Regions from separate parts of the Homo sapiens genome. Here region 1 is linked to region 2. The links come from fine-mapping of genetic effects on gene expression. Tissue or cell type: sun-exposed skin. Region 2 holds a variant in brackets; the other region holds the start of a gene. All regions are shown on one strand. Distances are between the middles of the regions.

Region 1 (2,672 bases), 95 kb before region 2:
AGTGACCGGCTCCAATGAGGGCACCTCATCACCATCCCTCTTCTTGGCCCCATCCCCCACCACCATTCCTTTCCTCCCTTCCCCCTGGCAGGTAGAGACTCTACTCTCTGTCCCCAGATCCTCTTTCTAGCATGAATGAAGGATGCCAAGAATGAGAAAAAGCAAGGGGTTTGTCCAGGTGGCCCCTGAATTCTGCGCAAGGGATGGGCCTGGGGGAACTCAAGGGAGGGCCTAAAGCACTTGTAACTTTGAACCGTCTGTCTGGAGGTCAGAGCCTGTTGGAAAGCAGGGGTAGAGGGGAGCCCTGGAAGCAGGGCTTTTCCGGATGCCTAGGGGTGGGCAGTGCCAGCCCCTCCTCACCACTCTTCCCCTTGCAGTGGAGGAGAGAGCCAGAGTGGATACTATTTTTTATTAAATATATTATTATATGTTAATAAAAAAATCATATCAAACCCTTGGTGTGGTTAGTTATTTGGGGCATGGCTGGGGATCTAGGGAGTTATAGGGCCATGGGTCTTTTTATCTATTAGGCTTTTTGCATCTTCTTAGCACCACTGTGCTTTGTGGAAGGGCCCCACAGCCTCGGAATTTGTACCCAGCTGGATGTAGGCTTCCACGGCAGCAGGAAATCACTTCATGTGCCCTCCTGTCTGTCCAGGGCCCTGCTGCAGCATCAGATGGGGGCTTTGACTGATCAGACAAGTTATTCCTCTTCCTCAACCCTAGGTCTGGCAGTGAGTCGGGTAAGGAGGTGATTGCTGGCTGAGCCCACAGGTCTGAAGTGCTCCTAGGTCTCAGGGAAGCAAGCCTTCATCCTCACTCCCTCACTATGCATGCATTCACTTCACCCTCTCCACTCTTCACCACTCATTCATTTTAGTTTTAATTAAACAGATCCTTCAGTGCCATGCATGTTCTGAAGGTTTTCTCTTTCTGGATTGGGTTGCCAGCCCTTGGACCAGCCGTGTGGGCCTCTGCACCCCTCACTCCCCCAACCCGCATAGTGAGAAAAGTAGAGCCCCGCAGTTACCTTACCCCCACCTCCACTGCTCTATTCCACACCCTGCAGTCCTGGCCTCTCTTCCTCTTTCCAAAGCTCTTGTCATTTTCAAAAAAGAGAACTGAGAGCTTCTGGTTCTGGTCCAAAGGGAATGCCCTGTGCCCTAAACCTGGAAGTAGGGGGAGCCACCTGGGTCCCCGTAGACTAGACCTTCGGGACTTCACCTGCGCCCACATCATGCTTGCCACATCTGACTGCAGGACCCAGGCGGGAAGGGAGCGCGCCGCGGCCCTCTGGGTCGCCTGGGGTCAGTGTCCTGAGGCACGGGCTGGATGGTGGGAAGCTACCTGGGTGCAGGGGGCCCTCCCAGCCGCCAGGGGTCGGGCTGCAGGCGGCTGGGCTTTGGGCAGACGCTTGCCAGGGTCACGGCCGCCGGCCGAGGAGGAGGGGTGGGGGTAGCGGCGGCGCCCGCGGCCCGGAGCGGGGGTTGGGGGAGTAGAGAAAGCGGGGCGCGCGGAGGAACGCTGGGTCCCCGGCGCCGCGGGAGCTGGGAGGACCGAGCCGGCCGAGCGAGCAGCGCGGCAGCACAGTCCCCGCGTGGCGCAGCGCGGCGGGGACGCGGGGACCGCCCGGATCTCCTTCCACTGCGCCCCGCGCTCTGCGGTCCTCGGCCGCCTCTTCTTCCTTCACTCACTGCCCGGGCGGGAGCGGCGCCCAAGTCGGGTGCGCCATGTCTGGGGCCGGGTAGCCCCGCCGCCCGCCGGCCCGCCAGCTCGCCCTCCGAGCCACCCGCCAGCGGGCCGGCCGGCCGGGAAGCGCGGGACAGGCAGGTAGGGGCTGGACCGGGCTGGGCGGCAGGCGGGGACGGGCAGGAGGGAGCGCGGGCGGCAGGCGGGGTGGGGGATGGCCCCCAGCTGCTGTCCCTCACTGCACATCTGGTTCCGGTTCCTCTCTCCTGGGGAAGTGAAAGTGGAGGGGAGGGCACCTCCCGCAATTAGCTCGCCGTGCCCGGCCTCCTGCACCCCCTTCTGCTCCCGTGGGTGCCGGAGTCGGAGCCGCCCTCCCTCCCGCTTGGGTCACGCGGCGGCCGGCGCTGCTGCCGTCACGTCCTCGGCCGCCGGCGCGCCTGCTTCTCTGCCCTCCTGCTCCTTCCTCAGCCTCCTCCCCCTCGGCGCGCCCTCTGCCCCAACCCGAACTTCCCGTCACCCGGCACGCGGGCGTGGGGACCCGGAGTGGGCCCTGTGCCCGTTGTCTTCCCTAGGGAGAAAGGGCTGCTTTCTGCAGGACTCTTCCCTGGCTTGGTGAGGGGAGGCCCCGGTGCGCAGGTCCTGCGGATGGGTGCCACCCACTTGCCCCTCAGAAGGTCCCACCTAATGGCCTCTGCCTGCTGCCTTGGGCATAGGGCTCCCATTCGCCCTCAGTGGATGAGGGACAGGTCTGTGCCCCAGAATTAAATCAAGAGGCTGACGCTGACTCCTGGCTTTACCTCCCAGAAGTGGAGTCTAAATTTAGCTGGGGTTGGTGTGTGTACGTGTGTGCGTGTGTGTGTGCGTGTGTGTGTGTGTGTGTGTGTCCAGAGGCCAGGTGATGAAGAAAGCCAGCCTGGCTCTATGAGATTCCTTATTCCCTGTTCTCTGGGGGAACAGCAGGAGGTTAGCAGGACTGCACATCC
Region 2 (2,500 bases):
TAGACTGGGATCCCTGTCTACCAAGCTTCACTCCCTGTCTACCAAGCTTCACTTCGTATGAGCAGGCTCTCAGCAGGGTTAAAGAAGCTAAGCAAAAAAGCCAAGAGACCATTTCTCAGCTCCGTTCTTCTGTTCACTTGATTGAATTTGCCAGGAAGAGTGTGCATAGTGCCAATCAGAAAATTCAGGATGCTCAGGATAAGCTCTAGCTCTCATGGGTGGAGTGGAAAAGGAATATTGGATACGATGATACTGATGAGTCCCACTGTGCAGAGCACATCGAGTCACGTACTCTTGCTATTGCCTGCAACCTGACTTAGCAGCTCCAGACCACATGCCACGGCCTTCTGTCCAACATCCATGATGACCACAGAACATCCAAGGTCAGGCCAAGCATATGAGGGTGATGGCAGGCGACATCTACTCAGTGTTCTGCAATGCTGCCTCCTTTGAGGAAGTGTCTGACAGCCTCCACTTCTAGCAAGGGGCAGCTGCAGAAAATGAAGGAATCTTTAGATGACTTGATGGATTTCTTGTTAACAACATGCCCCTCAACTGGCTGGTAGGTCCCTTTCACCCTCAACTGACTGAGTCTCAGAATGCTTAGGACCAAAGTGCAGAGATGGACAAGAGCAGCCAGGAGGCCCAGCGATCTGAGCACAAAACTCATTAAACTTGCCCCTGTCACCAGTGAATGATGCGGCCAGCCAGTTAACACCTTTCGTTATGTTGAAATTAACCCTGCTAGGCAACCCTAAATTGGGAAGCAAGTAGCTAGTAAAAAGGCCCTCAATTATAGTTATTTCCAGCTGGATTAAGAGCTTTAAAGTTTCTGGCTTTAGCAGATGATTTCTGTTCACCTGGTAAGAAAAGAATGCTAGGCTTGTTAGAGCCTAGCCAGAACTCACAAAAAATTCAAGTGCACTTATGTTCTCATTCTGTGGCCATTGTGTTACCCTCTGTTACTGTTTGTGTTGAATAAAAACATCTTCATGCGGGCTGGGGTAGAAACTGGTGTCTGCTCTGGTATGATCTGAGCAGGCCTCTTTACTGATTTATCTCATGATGATTGCTTGTACAACTTGATTTTAGTTTTTTATTTCTCAAATAGGAATACTACCTTTGAATTCAATATAATTCACTGTAAGATTAAAAAAAAAATGGACAAAGGACCTGAATAGACATTCTCCAAAGAAGACATAAAAGTGGCCAAGTATATGAAAAATTGCTCAACATTGCTAATCATCAGAGAAGTACACATCAAAACCACAATGAAATATCATCACTTCACACCTGTCAATGTCAAGATGGCTATTTTTTTTAAGTGGCAAGGGAGTGAAGAAATTGGAACCCTTGCACACTGTTGGTGGGAATGCAAAATGGTACAAGCGGCCACTATGGAAAACAGTATGGAGGTTCCTTGACATATTAAATATAGAACTACCAGATGGTCTAGCAATCATGCTTCTAGATATTTATCCAAAATAAAATCAGGATCCCAAAGAGTGACAACATGGAT[G/T]AAGCTTGAGGACATTATGCTAAGGGAAATAATACAGTCACAGAAAGATAAATAACTATGTGAGTCTACTTATGTGAGGTATCTAGTCAGATTCATAGGTTGACAGAGTCAAATGGTGGTTGCCAAAGGCTGAGGGGGAGGAGAAATTGGGGAGTTGCTAAACAATGTATGTAAAATTAATGTCAAACGGGAAAAAGCTCTAGAGATCTGCCATACAACACTGTACCTATAGTCAACATTAATGTATTGTACACTTGAAAATTTGTTAAGAGGGTAGATCTTGTGTTAAGTGTTTTTACCACAATAAAACAAAAAAAAACTTTTTTTTTTTTGAGGTGGAGTCTTGCTCTGTCACCCAGGCTGTAGTGTAGTGGCGCGTTCCCGGCTCACTGCAACCTCCGCCTCCTAGGTTCAAGCGATTCTCCTGCCGCAGCCTCCTGAGTAGCTGAGATTATAGGCGCACACCACCACGCCTGGCTAATTTTTGTTTATTTAGTAGAGACGAAGTTTCACTATGTTGGCCAGGCTGGTCTCAAACTCCTTCACCTCAAGCAATCCGCCTGCGTAGGCCTCCCAAAGTGCTGGGATTACAGGTGTGAGCCACCGCACCTGGCCAACAAACAATTTTTTAAAAATTAAGTATGGGCTTATTAGGCTGAGCGCAGTGGCTCACACCTGTAATCCCAGCATTTTGGGAGGCTGATGTGGGCGGATCACTTGAGGTCAGGAGTTCGAGACCACCCTCGCCAACATAGTGATACCTGGTCTCTACTGAAAATACAAAAATTAGCTGGGTATGGTGGCGGATGCCTGTAATCCCAGCTACTCAGGAGGCTGAGGCAGGAGGATCACTTGAACCCGGGAGGTGAAGGCTGCAGTGAGCCAAGTTTGTGCCACTGCATTGCAGCCTGGGCAACAGAGTGAGACTCTGTCCTAAAAAGGAAAAATAATTAAGTATGGGCTTATTTGTGTGGGTTTAAA

What was found. PIP is the estimated chance that this variant, and not a neighbour inherited with it, causes the effect.
Region 1: DENND4B starts here. The variant in region 2 is fine-mapped to the expression of DENND4B in sun-exposed skin (GTEx, PIP above 0.99).

The regions. Positions count from the first base shown.
Region 1 is chr1:153,945,455-153,948,126 of GRCh38, reverse strand. It overlaps DENND4B (DENN domain containing 4B), which reads left to right and starts at 1,409. Exons shown (of 28, transcript NM_014856.3): 1 at 1,409-1,826. CRTC2 (CREB regulated transcription coactivator 2) reads left to right here. Exons shown (of 14, transcript NM_181715.3): 14 at 1-452. The coding sequence ends at 18. RefSeq lists enhancers at 838-907, 1,719-2,219 and a silencer at 1,298-2,197.
Region 2 is chr1:153,850,272-153,852,771 of GRCh38, reverse strand. All of the region lies in intron 1 of GATAD2B (GATA zinc finger domain containing 2B), which reads left to right. It also overlaps the pseudogene LOC645965. Among named protein-coding and RNA genes, the nearest start is that of GATAD2B, 71 kb to the left of the region's middle. The variant G/T (reference allele first, on the strand shown) is at 1,520.